2 separate regions of the Homo sapiens genome follow, and region 2 is linked to region 1. A link means that fine-mapping ties the variant in region 1 to the expression of a gene that starts in the linked region. Tissue or cell type: whole blood. Region 1 holds a variant in brackets; the other region holds the start of a gene. Each region is shown on its reference strand, or each on the opposite one. Region 1 overlaps JAZF1-AS1 (JAZF1 antisense RNA 1). Region 2 holds the start of CBX7 (chromobox 7).

Region 1 (16,499 bases):
CCCTGGCCGAGTCTGGCTAGATAGAACCCCCTAGTAAGTTTGGGAATCTGAGCATGATCAAGGGCTATGTCTCACTCCTTAGTTGGGGTTCACAGAAGAGCCAAATCTTCTTGCCCTCTCCCACAGCAGTGTGGTAGAGCAGCAGCAGTAGATAGTGATGATAGCACAGCCTGTCTGGGCAGAGTCACCCTGAGGCAGTCTCAATCCCATCTACCCCCAGTGTCATGAGGGAAATTACCTTGATGCCATGATAGCCTCTATGCTACCAGTACACTGTTGCACAAGCTACCCCAGAGATGCAGGACTAAAAAGGATCAGAGACCAAATTAAAATACTCAAAGCACACAATTTATTAAATCAATTTATCCACACATCAATAAAAAGGAGAAAAGAAATGGGGTCGGGTAATGTACTTAGGAAAGGGTGCAGGAAAGGTAGAAGGACCACACTACATAAAACCTGGGTTATGAAAGACCCATAGACATTGCTCTCCCCACACCATCAGTCTTCCCTCTTGATGGTGAGGCTATAAGGACCAAAGATGAGCAAAGAGGCCCAAGACACAGAATATGCCTGGGACCAGCACAGACATTGTTTTCTAGGAGAAACACATGTATTTATTATATCTGGCTACAGCTATTCCTCACTAGTTAGCCTGTTGAGCAGCTGTGGATTTTATTTGGCAGAGGACATTTGGAGTCAGAATGGGTGTCACCAATGGGTTATCAATTTCAGATGTCATAAATATAAAGGGTTTCACATACCTCTAGTATATTTAGTGTATCATGAAAATTAGATGCCTCTGGTACCCCATGTATATTTAGCGCTTTGTGAAAATTAGGTGTCTCTTAGTTCTTCCATCTCTCCCTATCTATGTTCAGTATGCATAAGCCCTACTTATTTTATCTACATTTAACACATCTCACAAGTTACTAACTTCCTTATCTATATTTAACACGTCTTAAGAGTATCACCATCCATTTCTATTTTCTATAGCAGAATTGAATATTCTCAAATTTAGAGCAAATGCATATTTATCTAGCACTCACACACACACTCACATACCCCATAAGGTCACAAATAAAAACACCTGTAGTGTACATTCTCATCCTAAAAAAACTTATGGGATGGCCGGCAAACCAGAAGATAGTCACCTGAGAGACCAATGACCAGAGATCAATAAGAACTCAGACTGCTCAGCAGATGACAGAGGATTGAGAACCAGAAACTCTCAAGGAGCCTTGTAAGACTTAGATGCAACCTAGGGATAAAGAGAGGAGGGACGTCCCCTAAAATAACAGAAATCCTTGTTTTGATTGAGTTTGCCCTGCACTGATTATGTTTTCCACCACTGGGAGGAATGGGGGCTCTGGATCTGTCCTGTCCAAGAAACTAGATGGCTTCTCTATTTGACACTGCAGACAGCAAATGCTTCCATCATCTCAGAAGGTTCTACAGGATGCACACTGCTCTAGATATAAACTGAATTGTAGAAAAATAAAGTTACATCTTTGGAATATCTATGCTTATAGACTGAGATTATTACTTGCTGTACGTATACACATTCCTCATTAATAGGGTATCATAAATTCTACTCTTCTTTTAACCTTTTGTTTGTTTTTAGCAGATTAAAATACACTGATTCAGCCACTTCCTTTCACTGAATTTTCTGTGTTCAGTGGCCTATATGTTCAAGATAGCTAGCGGCAGGAAAAGGATTTATCAAGAACAGAGTGAAACCAACACTGATTAGGGAAAGAAAACCATGGTATTGTTTGCTAGATAAGGCCACAGCTCCGGGGAATATGTAAGGACTTTAGCTTTCTCTCTGAGTAAGATGGAAGTCATGGGTGATTTAAGCAGGGAAGTGGCAAGATCTGGTGCATATTTTAAGACACTCACTCTGGCTGCTATGTGGAGAATTAGTTGAGAAGGTACTAAGGTGGATGTAGGGAGACCATTTATTGCAATACTCTAGGCTGAAATGATGGCTGCTTGACTCAGGGTTGTGATAGTGGAGATGTTGAGAAGTGGTCATCTTCTGAATATACCTGATGGGAAAGCTGCAGTATGACTGATGGATCACACCTAAGGAATGAGAGGAAGAGAGGGACAAAGAATGAGTCCATGTTGACCTAGGCAGCTGGAAAAAGGACATTTCCACATATTGAGCTGGGAAAGCTTGCAAAAGAATAAGAGTTTGCAGAGGGAGTGTTTTGGAACATGCCACATTCGAAATGGGTACTTAAACACCCAAGTGGAGACATGACATAGACAGCTGGAGGTGTAAGTTCAGAGGTAAGGGCTGGAGATAAAATGTTGGTTGTTACCAGCATATAGACAGTATTTAAAGTCATGAGACTTACATGAGATCATTTGTGGAATGAGTAGGTGAGTGAAGCTAGAGAGGAAAGGAGATCTTCAGACTGATCCCTAAGACTCAGCAAGGTTCAGAGATGCAAGCAACACAGAAGATTAAAAAGAAGCCATCAAGAAAACCTGAAAACCAGGGTAGTAGGGTCCTGGAAGCCAAGTGAAGATATAGTCAATGAATAAATGGTCAGCTGGGGTTGGTAGGTTGAATAAGATGTACACCAAGAAATGAGCTTTGAGACTGGAAGCACAAAGATTATTTGGGCCTTGAAGGGACAGGTTTTGGAGAAATGATGAGGCTGAAGGCCTGAGTGAAATGCGGCCCAGGCTTCCTGGGATGCTCATCTCCATGAAGTATAATAGCACAAAGAATTTAGCACCTGAAGGAACCTGTGGATGCTATTGACTTGGGTGGACCCAGTGAAACAAATCTCTTGAGAGAGATGTTATACACCTAAGAGACAGGACAAGAGCAACTCAAATTAGAGAGAAAAATAACTAGAACATCATGAGTCTTCAGGTACTAACTCACACCGAAAAGATACCAGCTATAGGGCTTTAGAAACACCCAAGATTATTTGTGTTACTGTTAGATGACTTTTTTCTCAGATTAAATTTAATTCTCTGGCGTTACCTCTTAAAACTCTTGGTTTTTCAAATTTACTCATAAACTGTAGCTGATGTCTTAAGGGGGATCAGATTAGTGAGACTAATAGTATAATCTACCTAGAGAGTTAAGTGGTTGTTTTTTAAATAAACATTCTATTTTTGCACTTTTTTAAACGTGCAGGAGGGCAGATAATTAAAAGCTCCACCCTGGCCACCTCATCAGAGGAAACCTAACCATTTCTGGGTTTAGTTCTTCCTTACATAATAAGTTTATATATTTTTTCAAAAATCTACTTGTCAATTTAAGAGATTATTGTTCAAAAGATTCAAGAATATTCAAGAGATTGCCAGAAAGGCAAAAACGTCATTCATTTTCATTATTCTTTTTCTACCCTCCTCCAAAATGTTAATGACTATCACTCTAGTTCCTTTATAGGTTACCTTCATTATATGCTTACATAGACTTCTAGTTCTTTTTCATCAGTTTTGGCCATTACCTCCTGATTCATCACTTTAATAGTTAAGTATATTAAGACCCTTTTAGAAGTGTTTCCAGCTATAGCTAATAATTCCACATCTGTCTCTTTATCCTTACTTGAAGCCACCAGTGTTCAGTGTCACCAGTGTTCACTGTCATTTCACTGGTGTTCACTGAAGTAACATCCTAAATGCTCTCCTTCAGTCCTTTCATATTTTCTAATCTAGAAACTCAAATTTGAGCGTGCATTAGAATCCCCTGGTAGGCTTGTTCAATCACAGATTGTTGCTCGCACCCCCAGTGTTCCTGACTGAGCAGATGAAGAGTAAGGCCTGAGGAGCTGCATTTCTAACAAGTTCCCAGGTGAGGCGGATGCTGCTGGTCCAGGAACACACTTTGAGAACCACTGCTCTAATCCATTCTCTGCACTGACACGAATCTCCTAAGCATTGGCATACAGACTCCTTTCTACTCTGGCACACATTGTCTTTTTAAAACAGTTTTACTGAGATAGAATACATATCATCCAATTCACCATGTAAGTGTACAATTCAATGATTTGTAGTATATTTATAGAGTTGTATATACATCACCACAATCAATTTTAGAATTCTGAAAGAAACCCTGCATCCCTTAGTCATCACCCTTAATATTTATTTTGATAATATCGAGTTCCTATTGTGTCTTATTGGTCTTTGCATCCCTAGCACTTAACACAATACCTACAGTAGGCATCAATTAGTGTTTGTCGAGTGAATGCAAAAAATGCAATCAATTCAGTTAATAAGCTGTAGCTAAGATTTTACCATATAATTAAAAAGCATAGAATATATTACAACAAAGACTGTTAGTTACCTCCTGGTAACAAGACTCCTCTTCTTAGTAACAGAACCTCAATTCACATTTGGGTACACTGCTCTCCAGCTAAAAGATCACACTTTCCATTCTTCCTTGTAGCTAGGTTGGCCATGTGACTAAGTTCTAACCAAGGAGATGGAAGTTAAAGTATTATGTAAAACATTTGAGAAGTCTTCCAAAGGGAAGGGGCAATGCCCCTTTTCAGCCTTTCCCTTCTCCTGCTGCCTGGAACTAGGATGTGATATCTGGAGCTCTAGCAGCCATATTGGACAATGAGGATAAGGAAACAGAAAGCTGGAAGAGCCTTTGACCCTGAAGACCAAGGAATTACATGCCACCTTTTACAGGAAAATACTTTTAAATCTTAAGCCTCTATTTTTGGAATTTTAATTGATTGGAGACTAATGTGATCCTCACTGATTTATCAAAGCCTATGCTGTTTCCACCACGCTACAGGATTCAAGGCACAAAAATGCCTTCTGTTATTACTGTTGAATTGAACACACTTTTTGTTGTCACCTGTTAGTGCTCCTTTGGGCATCCCTTGAATTTGGGGTCAATATCAAAGTGTTTCAGTTTGTTGGAGTAGCATTGATTCATTGAAAGAGAATAGGTAGACAGTCTTAGAGTCAATCTTGGTTCTGTCTCTTAATAAACCTTGCTGAGCCTCAACTTCTTCCACCAGAGAGTTGTAACAAGACCCTACCTGTAGGCTTGTCAGGAAGATGAAAGAAGAAAGGCATGTGACACATCCAAAGGAGTGGCTGACACATAGCACAGAATGCTTCTTCCTGCTCATGCGGGGTCTGTCTAGGGAGCTCAGGTCAGAAACGAGTTAATTTGAGACATCTTGATCATTTCACAGCATCCACAAGAAACATTAGACAATTCTGATTTAGAGGAATCTGAGCCAGATTATAAACTACACGAGGGCAGGGACTGTCTTGTTTAATGCTATATCCCTATTGTGTAGAAACAGCAGCATTCAAGGAACGTTGGCCGAATTAGTGGATAAAAGCATCTTAAGTTCTGTGACTTCAATGCCTCAGAATCAATATTTCCCTGCATGTAACAGAGACTAAGTATAGACCAGTGTTCCTTGTAAAGTGACCAATCAAACCTCTATCAGAATCTTCTGAGGCCATTGCTAGACCAGGGTCCAAAACACCCCCTACAGCTGTTTCAGGGTCCTTGAACTCTGCACCCAAAAGATGGGACATTATGCGCAACCATCATTTATAAGCATCAGGCAATGGGATGCACGTGAAAGTCACAACATGGCAAAATAGAAGCAACCAGATTAAATCAACCTTAATCCCGAGCGCTTGGGAACATTCACATTCTTTTTTTTTTTTTTTTTTTCATTTTTTTCTCCTCTTGGGAAGAGCATTGGCGGGGTGATAAATTCTGTACCCAGACCCTGACTCACCTACTCTGTTAGGAAAAAGAACTCTTCTCACCTCCAGAGCTCTTATGAGCTAACTGCTGAAAACTTTTATGAGCTTTTTTACAAAATGCAATATCCCTACAATGATTCTAGTAGCTGCCTCAGGAGAGAAGCAGCATTTTTTCCTTTTTCTTTTCTTTTTTTTTTTTTTTTGACACAGAGTCTCGCTCTGTCGTCCAGGCTGGAGTGCAGTGGTGCAATCTCGGCTCACTGCAAGCTCTGCCTGCCGGGTTCACGCCATTCTCCTGCCTCAGCCTCCCGAGTAGCTGGGACTACAGGCATGCGCCACCATGCCTGGCTAATTTTTTGTATTTTCAGTAGAGATGGGGTTTCAAAGGTTTAACTGAAGCGCCATGCAATCCCCTTGGAAATTCCCTCTTCAAGTCTGTAAAATAAGCAGGAAACAAATACAAGCGTCTCAAACTTCAGATACTCATTTTGAGAAACAGGTGCAAGCCTTGTGGCCCTCATATCCAAGAAAAGCATCAGTGTTGATCCACCAGCAATTTTCAGGAAGCAGATTTTGCAAAGGAGATCAACTCTGTGTGTGTAAAAAGATTTGGAGCCCAAACCATAAGAAGTTATGGAAGAAAGGAAAGAATATGGCATTTCTCTCCCAGGCAGGGCATTTCCTATCCTAGTCAAGCTCAAGGATCCCCAGGGCACCAACTCACCACCCTGCCCTTCTTTACTTTCTTACCTTCCTGGGCTTCTGTCCATCTTTAAAACTTTAAAGGAGTAAAGTACTAATAGATGCTATAACATGAAAGCCTTGAAAACACTACGCTGAGTGAAAGAAACCAGGCACAAAGGGCCACATACTGTATGATTCCATTTACATAAAGTATCTAGAATAGGCAAATCTATAAAGACAGAAGATGGATTAGTTGCTCCTTAGGGGTGGAGTGGAGGGATAGAGGAATAGGGGATCATAGCTAAAACGAATGAATTTTCTTTTTTGAGGCGATGAGAATGTTCTAAGATTTACCATGGGGATGCTTGCACAACTCTGTGAAGATACGAAAAACCATGCAATTGTACACTTTGAATGGGTGAATTGTATGTTATATGAATTATATCCCAATAAAGCTCTTACCAAGAAAAATCCTTTTATGACTAGTTTTAAAGCACATTATGCTTTATGTAAAATTTTACCTAACTGTTATTGCAAGGCCATTCCAGAAAGGACACTGTGGATGAGCGGGGCAAGTGAATGTATTTAATTGACGTCATTCAGAGCTTCCCAAGAAGTACTCCAAAGGACAGCATGTTTTCAGCTGTTAATAGGTGAAATAATTGTTTTAAAAGGCTCCACAGTCAAGGAAATTTAAGAACAACAAAGTTAAATTTCAACAGGATCTCTACTGCTGGAGCACTCAGAGATTTAATAGGCAGACATGCATTGTGCATCTCCAAGAAGAGGATTTACCAAACCGGTTTAATCTTGAAGCCTTTTGTCACAGAGCATGGTGCAGAGTCAGTCTTCCATGACATGTATGCTGGTAAATGCATTTACTTTAATCTCAACAGGAACCCCTGGAAACAAACGTTATGCAAAAATTAACATAGGTCCTCATACAATGGTAACATTTTCATTTACATGTCTGCGTCTGATTTTAAAAGTTCACTTATAAACATTGTTTTTGCTTTCTAAATTCTTTTCATTCTATATTTAATATATGTAAACATAAGGAGTGTGATTTAGAGTAGAAATTCTCTTTTTCGCTAAGTAATAAGAGATTTTCTGGTATAACTTGGCTTGCTTCTATGAAGTGGAGTTTGCTTTATGTTTGTTTTATTTTTCTCCTGAAATAGAAAGGCATTCTAAGAACATATAAAAATCCTCAGTAATCCTTCTGTCCCTGGCCCATAGATCAAATCGTTCTCTCAGAATTCCACTCAACTGCATTTCTCAGCAAAGATGTATTGGCAAGCTAAATGGAGAGGTTTCAAATTACTCAGGCTTTATTAATTTTACAAAATATGCTTTGAAGTATTATAATAAATAATTAAAAGTAAATAGCACTTTTGAGATTAGTGAGCAGATGCTTGCAGGCATTACTGTTTCTTTCCTACCCTGTTCTCCACTTGCAGTGCCACAGAAAAGACAATCCATTGCTGCATCTTCCTCCCATCACTGCATCACGGCTTGAGTTC[C/T]ATTGCCCAGACGTATTGAGAAATAACAATTCAAGAAGGGAGGGAAGGAGACTAATAACTACTGAGCATAAAAACTGGATAGATAGAATGACAAGAAAAAGTACTCTCAGCCGGGGAAGGCGCCAGGTTGAGAAACTTCAGGTACTCATCTAAAGTGTGACACCTATCAGTAACTCTGTTTGGCAACTAATATTAAGAATTGTTTGCAGTGGGCTTTGCACTTTACAAAGCACCATCAGATGCAATATCTTAACCTTCAAAACAATTGTGAGAGGTAGCTCCTTTTTCCCTGTTTTACAGATGGAGAAATTGGGGCCCAGAGAAATTAAGAAACAGGCCTAAGATTCTCAGATAGAATACTGTGGAACAGCAATTTGACTCTGAGGCTTCTGAATTCAAAATGTACTCTCTTTCCACCTTCACTCAGCTGGGAGAAGTTAGAAAGGCAGGCTGGGAAGAGATTGCAAAGGTCTTTGAATAACAGAGAAGTTTATCCTTTACCTTGCAGGCACTATAATTATTATCTAAAGGCATACAGCTACAACATGCTTAGGCAAATAGATTAGCCATTTCTGATTATCTTAAGAAAATTTCCCAGTGTATTTAACCTGTAAATGAGTTCAAACAATCATTTTTGAAAAGCATCAAATGTTTACTTGCTTCTTGTTGTTGTTTATTTTGCCATTTTTGTGGGTTTTGTTTGTTTGTTTTTGGTTTTGTTGTTTTTGAGACAGGATCTCACTCTGTCACCCAGGCTGGAGTGCGTTGGCACAATCTCAGTTCACTGCAGCCTCAACCTCCTGGGCTCAAGTGATCTTCTCGTCTCAGTCCCCTGAGTAGCTGGGACCATAAGTGTGCCACCACGCTGGCTAATTTTTGTAAATATTTTTTGTAGAGACAGGGTTTTGCCATGTTTCTCAGGCTGGTCTGGAACTCCTAAGTTCAAGCCATCTGCCTTCCTCAGCCTCCCAAAATGCTGGGATTACAGGCATGAGCCACTGCACCTAGCCTACTTTCTGCTTTTACTCCATCTTACAAATGTTCATTGTGTACATAGTCCGGGATCATTTTAAAAGAGGTCCATATCTATCAGTTATTCATAAAGGATCCAAATAAACTAATTTCCTAACCCTATGTCTGTCCTTCCAAGCTTTACACTGGAACAGGAAGCAATATAAAGAAAGTTCTAAATCCAATATTATGTATTAATTATTCAATGCACATTAATTGAGCATTTACTATGTGTTAGGTAGGCATCTATGTCAGGGACTGTGCATTCAAAAAATGAAGACCACATGTCCCTACCATTATAGAGCTTACAGCTAAATATAGCAAAGCATCCAGGCAAACAGAGCACAGTGTGATAAAGAATAAAACAGAAGTCCGGATGCGGTGGCTCACACCTGTAATCCTAGCACTTTGGGAGGTCAAGCCAGGTGGATTGCCTGAGCTCAGGAGACCAGCCTGGGCAACGTGGTAAAACCCTGTCTCTACTAAAATACAAAAAAATTAGCAGGGCATGGTGTCATACGCCTGTAGTCCCAGCTACTTGGGAGGCTGAGGCAGGAGAATTGCTTGAACCTGGGAGGCGAAGGTTGCAGTAAGCTGAGATCGTGCTCCTGCACTCCAGCATGGGCTACAGAGCGAGACTCCATCTCCAAAGAGAATAAGACAGAAAGCATAGAGAGACATAGGAGCACATCACTAGACTTAGGAGTTGGTGAGGTTTCCTTGAGGAAGTGACATGCAGGCTGAAGGACCAGTGGGAGTACAATGGTGTCAGGGCTAGAAGCAGAGATTCCAAGCCTGACTTTTGCATTAGATTCACCTGGAGAGTTTTAAAAACTACTGCTGTCTAGACCCCACCCAGGCCAATTCCATCTGAATCTCCAAGAACAAGGTTCATTCAGGCAGCAATTTTTATAAATCTCCACAAGTGATTCTAATGTGCAGCCCTATTCTAGAATCAGTGACTTCAATCTTTACTAAAAAGTGTTTCAGAGTGGAAACGATGTGAACCATCTCTAAATTCAGATTTCAGTTCCATGTAAAGTCAAAGTAAATAATTTTCAGATGATTTTCTTGGTATCTATAATGTGACCTTTATCTTAATTATCTTGGGTTTCAAGAATATTTATGGCAAAGGGGACATGATAAAATTTTTTTACAAAAAAAAAAAGATGACTCTGAATAGTCTCAATATTGCTAGCTTTTCCTAACAGTTGGGAGAAAACAGCTTTTGTGGTAACTATCCCTGTGCTTACCAGCATTTTCTGTTCTGCTACTATGGGCAGTGGGAAGACTATTCTTCCTTGCCCCTTTAAAATTATGAGTGGTCACCTGACTCTTTAGCCAATAAATAGTGAGCAGAATTGATGTGTGTCTCTTCCATGAGGAAGTATGTAAGAGCTGGTCACATGTTCTCTTCCCCCACCTCAGTGATCCCTGAAGGCTTGGATGGCAATGGTAACATCTTAAGACAGAGGGATGATGAGGTCAAAGCACACTGGAGCGCTGAGCACCCCACAGAGAGCACTTACCTTGCAGAGCCACTCATGACATGCATTGTTTTAAACCACTAAGATTTTAGGGTCTTTATCACCTAAAATTCAGTTTATTACTGCAGCACAACCTAGTCTCACCTAGTAACTACCTTCTCAACCAGGCAGATCCCTAAGTTTGTATTTTCTTTCCCTAATTCATGAATTTTCTACTCACATGCTTTTCCATGATCAATATTAACAATTAATATCCATCCTTCCTTCTTTATTTTTATTCTCTCTTCTTTTCCTCCTCCTTTTCTCACTACTTTTTTCTTTCCTTTCTACTTAATCACTCATTTTAAAAATCACTGGAGATGCCCAAGAAGAAGGAAAGTTAGAAAGTAGTTGAGTGGGTGGTGGCCCAGCAGGCTGAAGGATTTGTTGCATACAGGGGGACTGAACAAATAAATACAGTCGGCCCTCCCTAGCTATAGATTCCACATCTGTGAATTCAACCAACTGTACATCAAAAATATTTTTTAAACAACATCTGCACTGAACATGTGCAGACTTTTTTCCTTGTCATTATTCCCCAAATAATATAGTAAAACAAGTATTTACATAGCATTTACATTGTATTTAGTATTATGAGTAATCTTGAGATGATTTAAAGTATTCAGACAGGCTGGTCATGATGGCTCATGTCTGTAATCCCAGCACTTTGGGAGGCTGAGAGGGGAGGATTGCTTGAGGCCAGGAGTTTGAGACCAGCCTGGGCAACATAGTGAGATGCCATCTCTATAAAAAATTTAGACAATTAACTGTGTATGGTGGCACATGCCTGTAGTCCTAGCTACTCAGCAGGCTGAAGTGGGAGGACTGCTTGAGTTCCAGAGGTTGAGATGGCAGTGAGGCATGCTTGCACCACTGCAATCCAGCCTGAGCAACAGAGAGAGACCGTGTCTCCAAAATAATTTTTTAAGTATTCAGGAGGATATGATTAGGTTATATGCAAATACTATGCCATTTTAGATCAGGGACTTTAGCATCTGCAGATTGTGGTATCCTTGGGACGGCCTAAAACCAATCTCCCCATGGATATGAAGGGATAACTGTATATTGAGGATTATGCAGCCGGGTTCCTTTGCTGCCTGATAAGAGAATTTTAAATATGAAAAGGTGAAACGATTGTGTTTGAATTGAAGTGGAGGAACTGCTATAAACTTATATATATATATATAATTAGATAGATATAAAAATGAATCTAGATGTTTCAATGTTCTGTCCTTGTTCTGTCCACTGAGAGATCCTGGAAGCAGCAATAGGCCAATAGCAGTAAGCCTACATAGCTTACAGATTTCTAGAAACCATTTTCCACTAACAGAAGAGATCTTAGAAAAAAAGAAAGACAGATTTCAGGGCTGGTGCAGCAAAAGCACAATTTGCTTCTGCTTTTTTTGAGTCTGAAAAATAACATATTATTATTATTATTATTATTATTGAGACAGGGTCTGGCTCTCTGTTGCCCAGGCTGGAGTGCAGTGGTGCAATCTCAGCTCACTGCAACCTTTGTCTCCCAGGCTCAAGCCATCCTCCCACCTCAGCCTCCCGAGTAGCTGGGACTACAGGTGGGCACCACCACATCCAGTTAATTTTTATATTTTTTGTGTGTGTGTGTGGAGATGGGGTCTCGCCACGTTGCTCAGGCTGGTCTCAAACTCCCGAGCTCAAACAATCTGCCCACCTGGGCTTCCCAAAGTGCTAGGATTACCGGCGTGAGCCACTGCGTCCAGTCTAAACAATAACTTAATGTCAGGAAGTAATGACGTACTCAAAAATGATGGGGGCATGTCAAAAGGACATAGAAGCCAGTTTGAAGCCAGTTGAACCATTAACACACTGAATAAAGTATCATTGAGTCCAATCATATTTAAACAAACTAATAAATAAATGGAAAAAAGAGAAAGTTCCTCTTTTTAGCAGATGCTAGCTATTAAATGTAGAAGAAATAATAGAAAATCACCATTTGGCAATGATCATAGTAATAACTGATTCAGGCAAGAAACATCAATGAATGCTAACATTTGTGGGCAAGAGTTAGAAGACAAATGAAATATTTACATAGTCTCAAAGTATGTTTCCACAAAAGACATTCATTATAAAGGAAAAAGAATAACTTTCTAGTAAAGTAACCTGGCAGAAACCACCTTACTCAAGTATAACATCAAATGTAACATCACCAGATTGAAATCATGTGCCAACTGACAGGATGTAAGAACTTGGGATTGCTTTTGTAATATTCCCTCAAAAATGCATGCATAACCTGGCTCTAATAATGAGGAAACATTGAAGTCCCCTAAATTGAGGAACATTCTACTAAAATAACTTGCCCATGATTTTAAAATTTTACAGTCATGAAAGCCAAGGAAGGACTATGGAATTGTTCTGGATTGAAAGAGACTGAAGAGGCATGACAACCAAAGGCCACACATGACACTGTATTAGATCATTTCCCTAAGGACATTATTCAGACAATTAGTGAAATGAATGGGATCTCTGAGTGATGTACATATAGGAGTTCTTTGAACTGTTCCTGCAACTTTTCTGTGATTTTGAAACTATTTCAAAATAAAACATATTGTTTTTGCAATTTGTAATAATTTTATAGACTTCCAATTCAGGTTTATGTTATAATCTGAAAAAATATTGGAAGTTTGAGAGTAATCTCAAATTATTTGGAATTAGCTATGGTGTGTTTTCTTTATTTTTAGTAAAGTTATTGAAGTTTGATAATAATATGGTTTGGCTGTGTCCCCACACAAATCTTATCTTGAATTGTGGTTCCTATAATTCCACATGTCATGGGCAGGACCTGGTGGGAGGTAATTGAATCATGAGGGCATTTCCCCCATGCTATTCTCATGATAGTGAGTTCTCATGAGATGTGATGGTTTTATAAGGGGCTTTCCCCCGCCTTCACTCTGCACTTCTCTTTGCTGCTGCCATGTGAAGAAGGATGTGTTTGCCTCCCCTTCTGCCATGGTTGTAAGTTTCCTGAAGCCTCCCCAGCTCTGCAGAACTGTGAGTCAGTTAAACCTCTTTTCTTTATAAATTACCCAGTCTTGAGTATATCTTTATTAGCAGCATGAAAACTAATATAAATATCTTAATTTTTTTAAGATTGTTATTATTCAAGTTTGTCTTTTATATTTAAGTTTGCACAATCACTTAATGGTTTCAGAACAGTGATATGCTCTAGGGAAATATGGGTATGACAATTAGGCATGTGTACCAAGAAATTATTTTCACCCAGGTCTTCAGTAATTTGAATGGATATCTATAGTACATGCCAACAGAATATGACTCAGAAAGCCATTAAATTCAAAATATAGAAAGAGAAAGACCCCCAAGCACTGAGCTTTTTCCCCATGCTTAACAAAAGTAAATTCCTTTGGCCAGAAGAATATGAAATGAAGATTTTTAAAAATTGTCTTCAAAAAAAGGCAAAATATTTTCTTAAAAGCAGTCTGTAAAATAAAAGATAAGTTTATTAAGCAAAGATTTTATTTTTCTATATTCATAAACATATGTCAACAGTTTGCAAATTGTGCCCAAAGGGGCAGCCCTTCAACTCACTGGTAAACAGGTATTCTGTGGACCATCCCAGCATGCACTTCCTGACACTGCCTTCTGGGCCAAATTCCACCCTCATCTACTGAAAGAGACACAGTGAGAAGTTCAAAATCTTAGCTTAACAGGTGTAGGAGCTGGTCTCTAAGTAATCCTTTAGAGAAAGGATTCAGGTCCCAGATCACCTCCCTCAAAAGAAGCATGTGTAATCCATCCCACTCAAATGGCCAGTCGTACAGTGTGGGGTTTGTATTGAATGTGTACCTGTGCTAGGGACCAAGGGTCAACCTGGACTCTGCTTTCCATGATGAGGGAGCACAGTGCCCAGAGAAGTATTAAGTCCTGCCCTGTCTATCTTAAAATCATACTCAAAAAGTTCTAGTTGTCATGTGTCCATCATGTCATTTAATATCATACTACTTTCATAAAATGCAAGGATAATGAAATATCACAGTTCTGAAAGTCTCAAAAAAATTTTTTTCATTCATCTCAAAATTATTCGGTTGGTGCAAAAGTAATTGTGGTTTTTGGTTTTGCTTTCAATGGCAAAAACTGTAATTCTTTTTGCACCAACCTATAAATCACTCTATGGACTCCTTAAGAACTGTATTAAAATAAGTAGAGAAGAGGCAGGCAAGTAAGTTATGAAATAAGTTTCCACTCACCATATTTTCTTTAACTCAGAGTTTTAGGCAGTTTAACATCAGATAGGATGAACAATTCCTCAGCCATGCTTAACTTTCTTTGTTTGCCAGGGGTGCCATAACAAATACCCCAGACTGGGGGGGTTAAACAACAGAAATTTATCTGGAGGCTGGAAGTCCAAGATCATGTTAGCAGTAGGGTCGATTTATTGTGGAGCCTCTCCCCTTGGTTTGCAGACGGCTGTCTTCTCCCTGTGTCTTCACATGGTCTTCCCTCTGTGTGTATCTATGTCCTAATCTTCTCTTAGAAGGACAGCAGTCACATTGGATTAGGCCCCATTCCAGAAACCTCATTTAACCTGAATTACCTCTTTAAAGACTATCTCTGAACACAGTCACTTTCTGAGATATTGGGGATTAGGCTCATGCCTGTAAACCCAACACTTTGGTAGCCTGAGGCAGGCAGATCACCTGAGGTCAGGAGATCAAGACCAGCCTGGCCAACATGGCGAAACCCCGTCTCTACTAAAAATATAAAAATTAGCCAGGTGTGGTGGTGGGTGCCTATAATTCCAGCTACTCAGGAGGCTGAGACAGGAGAATTGCTTGAACCTGGGAGGTGGAAGTTGCAGTGAGCTGAGATCTCGCCACTGCATTCCAGCCTGGAGGACAAGAGCAAAATTCTGTCTCAAAAGAAAAAAAAAAAGAAAGAAAGAAAAAGAATCTGGGGGTGATATAATTTAGCTCCTACAGTAGGTATTGATTAAGAATTATTCCTTTTGCCTGGATTAGAGCCTTTATCAATAATAATATCCACACATTTTAAAAATAGACAAAGCTTATTCCATGACTAAAATTTCTAGAAAACTTTCAGAGCTATGTGGACAACTTCATTCTTGGAGAAGTAGTTCCCTAGCCCACTAATTCAGAGGCCATTCAGGTCTCTCTGCACTGTATCTTTGAAAGACCAGCATTGGTATTAAATTCCAACTTGGTCAATAACCTTAATGGGCTTACTATATTTTTTTTAAGTCCAGATACTATGGGGCTTGAGGATATGATTGAGCCCTCAATTAATACTCATCTTATGGTAGGTTTTGAAAGCAGCTGTGGTCCTACCCAGGAAGGTCCCCACCTTGATCACAATCTCGTGGCCACAATTTCTAGACAAGCCAAGATGGCATGCATTTGAGAACATAGCTTTAAGAACTATCTGCCTTCCCCCAAATTCGAGGCTGTGGTGAAGCTCTCCTACATTGCTAGTATGTTGGAGTGTAGCTTGTTAATAGCTCTCAAAAGTAAAAAACAAAAGAAAAATGTATAATAAAATCTGATCCTGAAATCTACTTCTCAACACTTACCATACAGAAAGATGTGTGTGTGCCTGTGTGTGCGTGTGTGTGTGTCTGTGTGTGTGTGTGTGTGTAATATATATGTGATGCATACATGGTGGATGAAGAATTTTCGCTGCACTATTATTTATAATACAAAACATAAAAACAACATAAATATCCATCATAGGAGAGTGGTTAAATAACACTGGTATATGCATACAATAGAAAATTATGCAGCTGTTAAAAAATTGTACTGCTATTTTTGGTAATGGCAAGCTAGGTTATTCATACCAACCCTCCCACTGAAAGCAATTTAAAATGCTGGCTAAAATATTTTTAAATTAGCCCTTAAGACAAGGGAGATCCAACAAATAACAAAAGATATCTGAACAAAAGTGAGAACCCAGAGAGATAAGTGATCACAGCAGCCATCTTTATCCTGAGATCATTTGTCAGTCCCAGCAACTTCAAAATTCTACTTGTTGG
Region 2 (15,718 bases), not on the chromosome of region 1:
CTTCAAAAGACATCATTTAAAAAATTAAAAGGTGGCCAGATGCAGCGGCTCATGCCTATAATCCCAGCACTGTGAGAGGCCAAGGCAGGTGGATTGCTTGAGTTCAAGAGTTCGAGACCAGCCTGAGCAATAGTGCCAAACCCTATCTCTACAAAAAAAATGCAAAAATTAGCCGGGCATGGTGGTGTGCATCTATAGTCCCAGCTACTTAGGAGGCTGGGGTGGGAGAATTACTTGAGCCTGGGAGGTCAAGGGTACAGTCAGCCATGATCATGCCATGGCACTCCAGCATGGGTGACAGGGTGAGGCCCTAGCTCAAAAAAAAAGAAAGAAAGGAAAAGAAAAAAGAAAGAAAAAAATTAAAAGGCAAACCAGTCTTGGTGAAAATATTTATATAAAGAAATCTTTTTTTTTTTTTTTTTTTTTTTTTTTGAGACAGAGTCTTGCTCCGTTTGCCCAGGCTGGAGTGCAGTGGTGCCATCTTAGCTCACTACAACCTCTGCCTCCTGGGTTCAAGTGATTCTCATGTCTCAGCCTCTCAAGTAGCTGGGATTACAGGCACACACCACCATGCCCGGCTAATTTTTGTATTTTTAGTTGAGACGGGGTTTCACCATGTTGGTCAGGCTGGTCTCAAACTCCTAACCTCAAGTATCTGCCTGACTCGGCCTCCCAATGTGCTGGGATTACAGGTGTGAGCCACCATGACTGGCCAAAAATTCTTGTAACTCAAGACTAAGAAGATGATCTGATTTTTAAAATGGGCAAAATATTTGAAAACGCATTTCACCAAAGAGGATATATGAATGGCAAATAACTACTTGAAAGGGTCCTCAACATCATTAGCCATTAGAGAAATGCAAATTCTCTACATTCAGTCAGTATATGGGCAATAAATAGCTAAAATTGAAGATTGACAATATCAAGAGTTGGTGAGGATGTGGAGCAACTGGAACTCTCAAATAGTGTTGGTGGAAATGCAAAATAGCACAGCTACATTAGAAAACAGTTTGGAATTTTCTTTAAAAGTTACTATACATGGCCAGGTGCCATGGCTCACACCTGTAATCCCAGCACTTTGGGAGGCCGAGGCGGGTAGATCACCTGAGGTCAGGGGTTCAAGACCAGCCTGACCAACATGGAGAAACACTGCCTCTACTACAAATACAAAAATTAGCTGGGCGTGGTGGTGCGTGCCTGTAATCCCAGCTACTTGGGAGGCTGAGGCAGGAGAACTGCTTGAGCCCAGGAGGCGGAGGTTTCAGTGAGCCAAGATCACGCCACTGCCCTCCAGCCTGGGCAACAAGAGCAAGACTCCATCTCAAAAAAAAAAAAAAAAAAAAAGTTAAAGTTACCATACATAGGCCAGGCACAGTGGCTCATGCCTGTAATCCCAGCACTTTGAGAGGCCAAGGTGGGTGGATCACGAGGTCAGGAATTTGAGACCAGCCTAACCAACATAGTAAAACCCCATCTCTACTAAAAATACAAAAATTAGGCCGGGTGCGGTCGCTCACGCCTGTAATCCTAGTACTTTGGGAGGCCGAGGCAGGTGGATCACCTGAGGTCGGGAGCTCGAGACCAGCCTGGCCCACATGGCAAAACCCCATCTCTACTAAAAATACAAAAAAATTAACCAGGTGTGGTGGCAGATGCCTGTAATCCCAGCTACTCGGGAGGCTGAGACAGGAGAATCACTTGAACCCGGGAAGTGGAGGTTGCAGTAAGCCGAGATCACACTACTGCACTCCAGCCTGGGTGACAGAGTGAGACTGTCTAAAAAGAAGAAGAAGAAGAATTGTTCCACATTCTTGCCAGTGCTTGCAAGATTTTTTTTTTAACGGTCTCTCGCTGTCACCCAGGCTGGAGTGCAGTGGCGTGATCATATCTCACTGCAGCCTTGAACTCCTGGGCTCAAGTGATCCTCCCACCTCAGCCTCCTGAGTAGCTCAGAGTACAGGCATGCACCACCACACCTGGCTAATTTCTGATTTTTTTGTAGAGACAAGGGTCTTGCTATATTGCACAAGCTGATCTCGAACTCCTGGGCTCAAGCAATCCTCCCACCTCAGCCTCCCAGAGTATTGGGTTTACAGGCGTGAGCCACCACACCTAGCCTGCTTGCAATAATTTTTAAAACGGACTTTAACATTTTTGTTAATCAGTCGTATCTCATTGTGGGATTTTATTTGCGTTACTCATGAGCTTGAACAACTTTTCACAACTGTTGGCCACTGGTGATTCCTCTCTTTGCCTGTCCAAGTCTTTGCCACATTCTGCACTCCTGTATTTTGCTACAACTGATTGTCCATCTTCCCACTTGATTCACAGGAACTCTTTACATCACCTCCTTTGTCCATTTATGAGTGTTTTAAATATTTTTCTTTTCTGTTCACTTTATATATATTTTCTTCTTTTCTTTTCTTTTTTTTTTTGAGACGGAGTCTCACGTTGTCGCCCAGACTGGAGTGCAGTGGTGCCACCTCAGCTCACTACAACCTCTGCCTCCTGGGTTCAACCCTGCCTCAGCCTCCCGTGCAGCTAGAATTACAGGTGCCTGCCACCACGCCTGGCTAATTTTTGTAGTTTTTAGTAGAGATGGAGTTTTGTCATGTTGGCCAGGCTGGTTTGAACTCCTGACCTCAGGTGATCTGCCCGCCTCAGCCTCCCAAAGTGCTGGGATTACAGGTGTGAGCCACCGCGCCTGGCTCTTTTTGTTTTGTTGTTTGTTGGTTTGGAAATGGAATTTCACTCTTGTTGCCCAGGCTGGAGTACAGTGGTGCAATCTCGGCTCACTGCAACCTCCGCCTCCCAGGTTCAAGCGATTCTTCTGAGTACCTGGGATTACAGGCACCCACCACCACGGCCGGTAATTTTTTGTATTTTTAGTAGAAACGGGGTTTCACCATGTTGGCCAGTCTGGCCAGGCGGGTCTCGAACTCCTGAACTCAGGTGATCCACACACCTCAGCCTCCCAAAGTGCTGAGATTATAGGCATGAGCCACCGCTCCTGGCCTTGTTTTTTTAAGACAGGGTCTCACTCTGTCACCCAGGCTGGAGTGCAGTGGCACGATCTCAGCTCACTGCAACCTCCACCCCACAGGTTCAAGCGGTTCTCCTGCCTCAGCTTTTCAAGTCGCTGGCTGACTTTATATGTATTTTCATAAAGAAAGCTCATAGTTTTAATGGAGTCTAAGTTATCAATTGTTTCCTATATGAATTATGTTCCTGGTTTCTTGTTTAAGAAACGATTCCCTACTTCATGATCATAAAGATAAAGATATTTTAAAATATCATCTTCTAAAAGTTTCAGAATTTTGTCTTTCACATTTAGGATTTGAAGTCAGATGGAGTCAATTTTTGCCAGGCAGGAGGTCTAATGGTCTAATTTCCTGTATGAATAACTATCACCATTTATTGAAAAGTGTATCCTTTACCCAGTGACTGCAATTTTATTCTCTCTCTCTCCTTCTCTCTTTGACTAAGCTCTCATTGTCATTCCTTTTTTTCTATTTGTCTAGTCTTGAACAATAGGACATTGTTTTATTTGCTATAGCTTTATGTCTTGTTGTTGTTTTTTTTTGTTTGTTTTTTGTTTTAAACAGTCTCGCTCTGTCACCCAGGCTGGAGTGCAGTGGAGCCTGAACCTCCCAGGCTCAAGCGATCCTCCTACCTTAGCTTCTAGAATAGCTGGGATCATAGATAGCTACATGCCACCATGCCTGACTAAATTTTGTATTTTTAGCAGAGATGGAGTTTTGCCATGTTGGCCAGGCTGGTCTCGAAATCCTGACCTCAAGTGATCCTCCCGCCTTGGCCTCCCAAAGTGCTGGGATCACAGGTGTGAGCCACCGTGCCCGGCCAAAAAAATAAATTTAGATCTTCTTTAATGTCTTGCAATATAATTTTATGATTTTATTCCATAAGGGCCTTGCATATTTTCATTAGATTTATTCCCAGATATCTTACATATTTTTATTATAATATAAATAATATTTTACTTCATTTTCTAATTATTACTGGCATATGGAAACACAAAACACAATAGGTTTTTGTCTGTTGATATTTTATCCAACAATTTGCTAAATTTTCTTATTAATTATAATAAATATTCTGAAGATTTTTAAAATTTTCTACATAAAATCTGAAAATAATGATGGTCTTCTTTCTTTCTTTCTTTTTTGAGACAGAGTCTCACTCTGTAGCTCAGGCTGGAGTGTATTGGTGCGATCTTTGCTCACTGCAACCTCCGCCTCCCAGGTTCAAGCAATTCCCCTGCCTCAGCCTCCCGAATAGCTCGGACTACAGGTGCAAGCCACCACGCCCGACTAATTTTTGTATTTTTAGTAGAGACGGGATTTCACTATGTTGACCAGGCTGGTCTCAAACTCCTGACCTTGTGATCCGCCCACCTCAGCCTCCCAGAAGACTTCACCTATAAGCTATTGAAGGCCTCCTAAAGTGCTGGGATTACAGGCATGAGCCACCACGACTGGCTGATGGTCTTATTTCAAATCACTTCACCTTTCTTTCATTTGTTGTCTTTTTTTTTTTTTTTTTTTTTTTTTTTTTGAGACCGTCTTTCTGTGTCACTCAGGCTGGAGTGCAGTGGTGCCATCTCAGCTCACTACAACCTCTGCCTCCTGAGTTCAAGCAATTCTCCTGCCTCAGCCTCTCCAGCAGCTGGGATTACAAGTGCCCACCACCACACCTGGCTAATTTTTGTATTTTCAGTAGAGATGGGGTTTCACCATGTTGACCAGGGTGGTCTTAAGCTCCTGACCTAAGGTGATTCACCTACCTTGGCCTCTCAAAGTGCTGGCATTACATGAGTGAGCCACTGCACCTGGCCTCATATAACTTTTGACTCTCCCAAAACTTAACTACTAATAATCTACTGTTGATTGGAAGCCTTACCTATAACATAAACAGTCAATGAACGCATATTTTATATGCTACATGCATTATATATTGTATTCTTACCATAAAGTAAGCCAGACAAAAGAAAATGTTATTAAGAAAATCATAAGGAAGAGAAAATATATTTACTCTTCATTAAGTGGAAGTGGATCATCATAAAGGTCTTCATCTCTTCATGCTTTGTAGGCTGAGGAGGAGGAGGAAAAGGAGGGGTGGGTCTTGCTGTCTTGCCACCTCCCAGAGGTGGAAGAAGACTCATGAATAAGTGGACCCACATAGTTCATACCTGTGTTGTTCAAGGATCAACTGTAATTTAAAATTTTCTAAAATCTTCATTAAAAATTAATTTATAGGCCAGGCGCGGTGGCTCACGCCTATAATCCCAACACTTTGGGAGGCCAAGGCGAGCGGATCACCTGAGGTCAGCAGTTCGAGACCAGCCTGACCAACATGGCAAAACCCCATCTCTTCTAAAAATACAAAATTAGCTAGGCATGGTGGTGCATGCCTGCAATCCCAGCTACTCAGGAGGCTGAGGCAGGAGAATCGCTTGAACCTGGGAGGCGGAGGTTGCAGTGACCTGAGATCACGCCATTGCACTCCAGCCTGGGCAAGAAGAGTAAAACTCCGTCTCAAAAAAAAAAAAAAGATGAATTTTTTGTTTAACCTAATGTATCAAAATATTATCATTTCCATATTAAATAAATATCAACTTATTAATGAGGCATTTTACATGTTTTGGGTACTAAATCTTTGAAATCTGGCCTGTATCTAATTTTATTCTTCTGTCTGAGTTCGAACTAGTCACATTTCAAATGCTTGACAGTCACATTTGGCCAATGGCCACCACAGTGGGCAACAGATTCAGGATATCCAGTGTGATGTTTAGCAGAAATGGGGATTCATCCAATCTTGCCTTGTAACTGATCTCAAGGGGATGTTTTCCACATTTCAACATTCATTAAGATATTTGCTGTAGGTTTTTTATAGAGCCCTCTACCAGGATAAAGACATTCCCTTGTGTTGATAGTTTGCTACAAGTTTTAAAACAAACAGATGTTGAACTATTTCTGCATATACTGAGATGATCACATGTCTTCCTCCTTTAATTTTTTTTTTTTTTTTTTGAGTGGAGTTTGCTCTAGTTGCCCAGGCTGGAGTACAACGACACGACCTTGGCTCACTCCAACATCCACCTCCCGGGTTCAAGCGATTCTCCTGCCTCAGCCTCCGGAGCAGCTGGGATTATAGGCACCCGCCACCATGCCTGGCTAATTCTCCTTTCATTTTTTAATGAGGCAAATTATATTGACTGGTTTTCAAATGTTAAACCAACCTTGCATTTCTGGATTAGACCCAATTTTACCACTATGTAGTATCATTTTTACATACTGCTCAATTTGATTTGCTGTTTTATTTAGGATTTTGGTATCTATATTCATAAGTGACATTGGCCTGTAATTTTCTCTTGTGCTGTACTTGCCATATGAAGAATTGGGAAGCAGTCTCTCTTTTTCTATTATGTGGAAAAGTTGGGGGTAGCATTGGAATGAGTTCTTTCAAGAGCTTATAGGTGAAGTCTTCTGGGTCTGAGCTTTCTTTGTGGAAGCATTACCGGTTTCCTTCCTTTAATCATTATGGGGAGGTCTGATGTCCAGCTGGTGCCATAGGACTTCAGGTTGCTCAAATTCCAAAATAATTTCATACCAATTGGTATGTAGCCGCTACGATCAACCTCCTAAGTGCAATGACTCTTCCAGGGATGCCCCAGATCCCCCAGACCTTCTGATGTCACATAAATCACGGAATTACTGCCTGGACAGCCTTCTGGACCCTGCTCCATGTGAAGGCTGGAAAGTGTTTCAAATGGTCAGTAACTGGCTATGAAAGTATTTCATAATTTGGTACTATGACTAGGGATGGTACTCATTCGGGTTTTCTCTTCATCTTGCGACCATTTTGGTAAGGCATATTTTCCTAGGAACTTGCCCCTTTCATTCAAATTTTTACGCTATTGTAATGAGACTATTCATAATATCCTCTTTTATTTTCCTTTTTAAAATGTCTACAGGTTCTGTAACTTTTAATTACTGATATTAGTTAATTGTGTTTTCTCTCTTTTTTCTTGATCAATTTCAACAGGAGTCGTCCATGCCATTAGTCTTTTCACAGAAATAATGTTTGGTTTTGCTGATCCCATTTCATTATTTTCTCTTTACCATTTCTTCTTCTTCTTTTTTCTTTCTTTCTTTTTTTTTTTTTTTTTTTTTGAGATGGAGTCTCACTCTGTTGCCCAGGCTGGAGTGCAGTGGCATGATATAGGCTCACTGCAACCTCCGCCTCCAGGGTTCAAGCAATTCTCCTGCCTCAGCCTCCTGACTAGCTGGGAGTACAGGCACGAGCCACCAAGCCTGCTCATTTTTATATTTTTAGTAGAGATGGAATTTTGCCATGTTGCCCAGGCTGGTCTTAAACTTCTGACCTCAGGTGATACGTCTGCCTTGGCCTCCGAAAGTGTTGGGATTACAGGCGTGAGCCACTGTGCCTGGCCTATTTTCTCCTGTACCTTTACTCTTGCCTTCCTTTCATTTTCTTTGGTTTATTCTGCTGCTCTTTTTCTAGCTTCTTGAAACGAGCGCTTGTTCATTACTCTCAGCCTTTTCTCTTTACTAATATAAGCACAAAAGGCAATAAACTTCCCTCTAAGAAGCGCACTAGCCATAGCCCAACATTTTTACTATGTAATATTTCTATTGTCATTCAGTTAAAAATATTTTTTTCATGCTTAAAGGCAAATGTATTCAGTTCCTTTCCATGCAGCACACAATAAGTTTATCTATGTGCTTATTTCTTTTCCAAATCAACAGTTTGAGACAACCTTTCAGGGTCTGCTCATCCTCCATGGCGAGTCATCTTGCAATGTGATCTGGTAAGTGTCTTGCATGGGGGAAAAGGAACCTTCTTGCTGACCTACAGATTGGCCACATACGGGGTGTATGGGAGGAGACCTAACAACTATTGCCTCTTCTGCCACCATCAAGCTCATGGTAGGGCCACATTAACTTTTTTTTTTTTTTTGGAGACGGAGTCTCACTCTGTCACCCAGGCTGGAGTGCAGTGGCGCGATCTCAGCTCACTGCAACCTCCGCCTCCCGGGTTCAAGCAACTCTCCTGCCTCAGTCTCCCAAGTAGCTGGGATTATAGGTGCCTGCCACCACGTCTGGCTAATTTTTTTTTTTTTTGTATTTTAGTAGAGATGGGGTTTCATCATATTGCCTAGGCTGGTCTCAAACTCCTAAGCTCCGGCAATCCACCCGCCTCGGCCTCCCAAATTGCTAGGATTACAGGCATGAGCCACCGCACTTGGCCAAGGGCCACATTAACTTGTACCAAGAGATGCTTATAGAAGCCACTCGGATTTGCTACAGCAGGGAGGAAGGCACAGGAGAAGAGGAGAGACTTGATGTCCTATGATGGAGTGTAGAGACTGCTGGATGGAAAAAAAACAAGAACAATGAAAATAAGGTCATCTTCCTTAGGATGCCATGCCAAACAGAAAGCCTCCGAAAAATCCCCCAGTCACTAGAACATTCTTCACAAACGACACCACCTCCTCAGCTTTGCTCCTGACCTTGGTAGGTATCTGATTGCTCTTAAGGGATCTTCAGCAGCTCTTTGGCTTTCTTTATATCTTTCTCCACTCGTTGCCAGTCAACTTTGATGTACCCAGTATGATTTGCAAGCTGAAGGAGAAAAAAACAAAACACCTCCCACAACTGTTACAGCCAACTTTCCAACCTTCTGGGATATGAAACCCGTGCACCATTCAGTGACACCCCCAATGAACGGCTGGGTTGCCACCCTTCACTTTTCGGGGAAGGTCCAGATTCCTGCCTGAACAGCTTACACCACCATGGCTGTTTCTTAGCAAATTCCACAAGGTCCAGCGACTCAAAATTTCCCTCAAAGTTTGCTTGACTGGACTCGGCCATTTCATCGAGCTTGTCTTGCGAGGACACACGCAGAGGATCCGCGCTGTAGGAGGCGGAGTGGCACACAGAGTCATCACCACTGGTTGGCTTCCAGCACGAGGGACAGATTTCCATTCCCACGGCGACAGCGGAAGAGCAGTTAAAAATATTTTATAATTTCCATTACAATTTCTTTTTTTTGAACCGCTAGTTAACATAAAAACGTACCTCTTCCGTGGCTCATGCCTGTAATTGTAGCATTTTGGGAGGCCAAGATGGTTGAATCACCTGAGGTCAGGAGTTCGAGACCAACCTGGCCAACATGGTGAAACCCCACCTCTACTAAAAAGACAAAAATTAGCTGGGGGTGGTGGCGGGTGCCTATAATCCCAGCTACTTGGGAACCTGGGAGGCAGAGGTTGTAGTGAGCCAAGATCGTGCCACTTCACTTCAGCCTGGGTGAAAGAGCAAAACTCTGTCTCAAAATAAATAAATAAATATAATGAAAAACAAAAACAAAAAAACCCATACTTCTTACTTTCCAAACATATGGGGCTTTTGAAGTGAACTTTTTATTATTCATCTCTAGCTTATATGTGTTGTGGTCAGAGAATGTATTCTGTTATTTCTGACTTTTGAAATTTATTGAAATGAACTGTTTTTGTAAGTATTCCATGTCTTGTAAAGGGGAGTATTTTACCATGGTAGATAACAGTGTGCTATGAAGTCCATTAGTTAAGTTTATTAATTGTGTTCAAATCTCCTATATACTATTGAATATTTTTCTTCTTCTCCTACCACTTATGGAGGGGTGAGTGTTAAGATCTCCCACTATAATTGTGGATTTGTCTATCTCTCCATCTAGCTGTCTTCTTCATGTTTCTTATATTTTAAGATGATTTGCATACAAATGTGAAATTGTTCTATTTTTCTGGTGAATTGGACACTTTTCATTATGAAATGACCTTATTTATCTCTAGTGATGTTTTTCCCTCGATATTAAAATAACTGCACCAGCCTTCTTTTCGTTAGCATTTGCGTGGTATTTTCCCCCCATGTGTTTACTTTTGACCATCACTAGCTTTATGTTTTGGAAGTGTCTCTTGTGGGTTTCTCTTGTAAACTGCATCTAGCTATTTATGCATTCTGATAATCTTTGTATTTTAACTGCAATATTTAGTTGCATTTATTGAATCACAAAATATTCGAATTTATAGCTATCGTCTATTTGTCCCCTCCCTGCCCCGTCTTGTATTTATTTTTCTCTCCATTCTTGCCTGCTTTACAGTTGTTTGGGTTGGTTTAATCATTCTTTTTCCTCCTCCAATAATTTGGATAACTATACACAGTATTTCCAGTCCTACAGTGTTTATCCCAGTAATGACAATCTGGATTCTTAAATTCGTCAAAGTGTATTTGGTATCTATCTTCACCTTCCTCCTGAAGAATATAAGGATCTTAGAACACTTTAACTCCATTCACCCAAGTAAATGCCATCACTGTTGTGTATTTTAAATCTGTTTTTATCCAGAAGTCATTGTTATTGTTTCACACTATCGCTGTTCTTCATTTTTCTTTATTCCCAGTTGCATCAGACCTCCGTCTGGGATCATCTTTTTCCTGCCTGAAGTTCCAGCTTTGGAATCTCCCTCCGGAGGGTCTACCAGTGGCAAACTCTTAAGTTTTTGTATTTGTAAGTGCTATGATTTCACCTACGTTCTGGATACATGTGCCTCATACTGGGTACATAATTCTTGAAATACATTTTCACTGAATATATAATTCTAAGATGATGGTTATTTTCTCTCTGGCTTTGTTGCTCTTGATGAAAAGTCAGGTGTGAATCTATTATTCTCTTTTTCTATGTGCCAGAAAGAGGTGTTGGATTTTATTGTGAGGGAAATAGGGAGGAAAATTTTTAAGCACAGGGTGACCCCGTCAGATCTGCATTTTAGAAGCACACTCTGGCACTGTGTGGCTGAGATCGGAGGGAGGGCAGCTCCGCGAGGTCTCTGCTGTGGTCCAGAGAAAAGACGGGGCGAACCTGGGAGGTGGGTGCGGTGAGGGCAGGCAGACCCGAGTCCCCGAGGGGATGCCGGAGCGACAGAAGTTGGGGTCAGTACAGGAAGGAGCAGGGACGACGCCGGGCTCCCAGTGAGGAATGGAGGCGCGTTAGCGAAAAAGGAAGGGGGGTGGGGAATCAAGAGTTCGTCTCGTGCCACAAATGGTTGAGCCCCCACTAAGCACCTAGCGCCCAGTACACGCGGGTTTGGGGAAGGCTGGGGCAGCGCGGCGGCAAAATCCGTCCCCGGGGGACCTCAGCTCCACCGCGGCCGCTCCTGCCGCGAACGAGGGCCCGGCCCGGGAGCCCTCGAGGCAGCGCCCGCGTCTGACCCGTGCGTCTGGGCACCGACCACCGAGGGTCGGGTGGATGGACAAATGGAAGGGCGGATGGAGGGGTGGGTGGACGGACGTGGAGACACTGGCCAAACTGCGCCGCGGAGAAGGCCGGATTAGGGAGACCTCGGCCCTGCGACGTCCGGACACGGTGGGAAGCCTTTTGGGTCCCGGCTCTCCTGCAACTCGAGGGGCTGCGCCTCGGGCCCAGTCTCCTCCGCTGCGGGAGGTGAGCAAATGGCCTCCCCGCTCTGAGCCTTGACTTTGTCGTCGGCTCCACTGGGCCCTGCCACTTCGGCCCCTGGCAGTCACCGGGAGGCTATGAGGCGCCCGCCTGGGTATTAAGGATCACGTCCCGCCCCGGCGTCACAGCAAGACGGGGCGCGCGAGCCTCCGCCCCGCCCCAGCCGGTGACCGAGCCAAATAAGTCCCACGGCAGCGCTCGCGGCTCGCGGCCCGCGGCCCAATCGCAACCCGCGGGGGCGGGCCCCGGGGGCGGGGTTCCGATGGGGGCGGGGCTCGGGGGCGGAGCTGACCCTCAGGGCGCGAGCCGAGCCCGCGGCCGTTCCGCGCGCTCCCGCCCCGCCCCCTCCTTGCGCGCGCTCGCTCGCTGGCGCCGAGGAAAACGTTGCGCAGGTTCAAAAATGGAACGTCGGCGGCGTGAGGGAGCGCGAGGGGGTGTGCGCGCGTGCGCGTGCGCGTGCGCGCCCGGACGAGGGTGACGGGGACCCCGCCAGCCCCAGCATCGCGCGCCGCAGCCGCGGCCCCGCAGCTCCGCCCCCGGCCCGGCCCGGCCCCGGGCCCGCTCGCCCGCCGCCCCGCATGGAGCTGTCAGCCATCGGCGAGCAGGTGTTCGCCGTGGAGAGCATCCGGAAGAAGCGCGTGCGGAAGGTGAGGCTGCCCGGGGGCGGCTCCCAGGACCCCAGTGGGGTCCCTCCCGTCCCCAGCACCGCTCCCTCCACGCTGGGGCTGAAGGGGAAAGCGGGGCGCGGGGGCCCCGGCAGCCCTGCGCTGCTGGGCCCGTCTCCCCAGCCCGTGCCTCAGTTTCCCTGCCACCGTGTAGGGCGAGTAGAACAAAAGTTGTCGCTCCAGGATGCTAGTGGCGGCCGAGCCTGCCTGAGCTGGAGATTAGGATCGGACGTAGGGATCCTCAGCGCCATCCCACCTCGCTCCCCTTTTATTGTAAATATGGGGAGACTGAGGCCCAAGTTGAAAGGACTTGCCTAGCGCGTTATGGTCAGAGCTGGGTTTTGAACTCGGGACTCTGGACGCTTGGCACCAAATCCTTTCAAGTTGTAAGTGGAGCTTTGGAAAAGTCTCCTCCGGCCTCTGAAGTTTTTCCTGCTGGACTTTGGCCTTTTCCGATCCTGCCCCCTCTACGCCACCCGAGCACATCCCTATTCCCCGCCCCCACCCCCACCTCAACTCCTAGCCCAGGCCAGGGCTCTGAAGCCCGCCCCCTGCGCTGGGGCATCCCCTAGTCTCCTACCCCATCTGCCTTCTTCAAAACATACACCCTGCAATTTAAGGAGGTGTCTGTTCTGCTGGTTTCAGAACCCCACACTTTGGGGCTAGACTTTGTCCGGGCCTGGCGTCTACACCTCCCGTGCACTTGTTTGGCGAGGGGGCTCGCCTAAGGCTGGGGAAATCCTTGGGGAGAAGTTCCTTTCCTGGTACGCACTACTGTCCTTCCTTTGTCTCCTCCTCCCTGCAGCCCTTTGGGAGGCTCCAGGCCGACTGGGAGGGGCCTTAGGGGGTCACCTCCTCCCATTTAACAGAGACAAAAACTGAGGCCCAGGCAGAGGAAGTGACCTGCTCAAGGTCACCGAGCAAGTTAGATAGGGAGGTAGAGCAGGAGCTCAACTGGGCTGATTGGCAGCCCATCTTCTTTCTCCATAGAGAAAACTCAGTCCTGGCATCTCGGGCCAAGGGTGAAGGTCAAGGTGGTCAGGAGCATCTTTTCTTCCTCCAGCTGTGCTTGGGGTTTTACTCTTCTGATTGAGGCAGCTGTTCCTCCTCCTTCTCCTTTTTCCTAGGGTTTTCTCCACTTAAAAGAGAATTGATTTATTCCACAAAGCTCAGTGCTTTTCGTGCTGTGTAGCCTGAAGCAGGCACAGCACTAACTCCCTCTACGATGGAGCCCGCAGGGTAGCACAAGAGGGCGAGATCATCATTCCTTCGGCCAGTCACTCAAAATATTTATTGAGGGTTGGTCAGGTACCAGGCACCAGTCTAAGCCCCAGGGATCCACCCCTTCCCTCAGGGAGCTGGCATTCTGCAGAGGCGGCACACAGTGAATGAGGAGATACAGACAGATGCCTTCAGATGGAGCTGTGTGCTCTGCAGAAATAGAACTGCAAGGTGCCAGTGGAGACAGCATGGGAGAGGGTCACCAGGGAAAGCCTCTGTGAGGAGGTATCATATTTTGGTCTTAAAGTTCTGGCGTGCAGGGGCTTCACTCACAATGGGGTTGGACTGTAAACTTTTTTTTTTCTTGGCACCAAGATCTCACTCTGTCACCCAGGCTGCAGTGCAGGGGCATGAACATGGCTCACTGCAGCCTCAACCTCCCCGGCTCAAACGATCCTCCTGCCTCAGCCTCCTGTGTAGCTGGGACCACAGACAAGTGCCACCATGCCCAACTAATTTCCTTTTTTCAGAGACAGGGGTCTCACCGTGTTGCCCAGGCTTGTCTCAAACTCCTTCCTGGGCTCAAGCGATCTTCCAGCCTCAGCCTTCCAAAGTGTTGGGATGACAGGCTTGAGCCACCGTAACTGTAAACTTTTAAAGCCTGTGAGGAAGGGAGGGGCCTGGCTCTACTTTCTAACAACCACAGGGCTGACCACCCCTTCTGAAGGTGGAGACTTTGCCAGTCTTCCATGGGGTCCTGCCAGGGTCTTTTGAGTTGAGAGTCCTCAAGTCACTGGCCCATTACCTCTGAGCCAGAGGCAGCCACTCACAGACTGAAAGGGGACTCAGCAGATGGGGGAGGAGCGTGGGGACTACCCCAGAGAGGAATGTTTTCGTATTTGGAGACTCTTCCAATCTAAAAAAGAAAGTAAGCGTTCCCACCTGTGCACTGGGGCTCTAGACACTGTGGGTCTTTGGCCACGCATGCACACCTCCATGCAGTCTCAGCTCCCAGTGTGTGACATGAGCCCTGGGCTTGGGCCTCAGGAGCCTCAGAGGTGGCTGGAGCCAGACGCACTCCTGTGCTGTCCTAGGGAGGGCAGTATGGGGCGGGCATGCAGCAGTCGCGGTTATATGGGTTGGCGAGGATCTGGTGGACAGTCCCCGGATTGTGTTTGTGTGTTGGGGAGACACCTGTCTGCAGATGGGATTTGGAGCTGGGCTCCTTTGGGCCTTAACTGTCCTTCCGAGTGGCTGTAGGGGCAACCACGAGACTCACTGTGTCTGCTTCTCTCTCTTCTCAGGGTAAAGTCGAGTATCTGGTGAAGTGGAAAGGATGGCCCCCAAAGTAAGCTCCTTCATGTGTGTGTGTCTGTCTGTCTGCCTACCGACCCATGCATTCCTCCACCTGCCTTTTGCCCCCTCCCCTGCCTAGCTTTTAGCTCCAGCTACTCTTGTAACTGGACAGCTGACCTTGATTTAATCATCATCTTCTCTGGGCCTCAGTTTCCCCCTGGACCACAGGAGGGTCAAGGTGGGTCTCCAGCTTCTCTTCTCACCCTGCCCTCCTGAGTGTTGAGCTCCTCTGCTAGTTGGAGCTTCTGCTCTCCCTCCTCCCCTCCCTGTGGCTTTTCTTGGCAACTGGGAGGTGAAGGCCCAGCATCCGGGCTACTGGAGATGGCTGCTGGACAGGAGGAGGGGACCCCAGCTGCTTTAAGCACAGTGCTGCATGAGTCCTCAGTGCTGTGTGGCCAGGGGCAGAGCCTGAATCCCCCTCACCTCTAGACGGCACTTTCCAGTCTATAGAGCAGGTTCCCATACAGCTTTGTAAGGTAGGTGTGATCAGGCGCTCTCAAGGTGAGGAAACAGGCTCAGAGAGGGTAAGCAGCTTGCCTTAGGTCACACAGCAAGTGGAGGCAGAGTTGGGACTTGAACTAGGCCTTCTCCTTTTCAGGTGTCTCCTCTGTGCCTTCCCAGCCTCCCATCTCGGAGTTGGGAGGCAGGGAGCTGTATCTGAGACCTCCCAGCTTCTCCACCTCTCCTGCTGAGGCCCCATCAGGAACCCACCAATGCCCTCCAGCAGGGAGTTGTTGGGAGGGAATGAGCTAGTCGTGGGGCCTCCCCATTGGTCTGTGGGTGCCCCACCCCCTGCCCCGCCTCCCGGAGACTGAGTCCTGGAAACCCCCTCTGCCCAGAGCTGCTGCTGTCGGGCAGGGACTTTTTGCTGTGCTGGTGGGGGCTGACCTGGTATGGGGTCCTGTGGGCATTCTGGGGTGATGGTGGGGAGAGACAGCAGAGAG

The links. PIP is the estimated chance that this variant, and not a neighbour inherited with it, causes the effect. A credible set is the group of variants that fine-mapping cannot tell apart.
Region 2: it holds the start of CBX7, and the variant in region 1 is the best candidate, but not a certain one, in a credible set for the expression of CBX7 in whole blood (TOPMed, PIP 0.75).

The regions. Positions count from the first base shown.
Region 1 is chr7:28,208,045-28,224,543 of GRCh38, reverse strand. It overlaps JAZF1-AS1 (JAZF1 antisense RNA 1), which reads right to left. Exons shown (of 4, transcript NR_034097.1): 3 at 7,195-7,301. Among named protein-coding and RNA genes, the nearest start is that of JAZF1, 35 kb to the right of the region's middle. The variant C/T (reference allele first, on the strand shown) is at 7,923.
Region 2 is chr22:39,148,837-39,164,554 of GRCh38, reverse strand. It overlaps CBX7 (chromobox 7), which reads left to right and starts at 11,875. Exons shown (of 6, transcript NM_175709.5): 1 at 11,875-12,179; 2 at 14,723-14,766. The coding sequence starts at 12,111. It also overlaps the pseudogene FUNDC2P4. RefSeq lists silencers at 11,569-12,138, 12,209-12,258 and enhancers at 11,716-12,297, 15,377-15,671, 15,712-15,718, 15,333-15,718.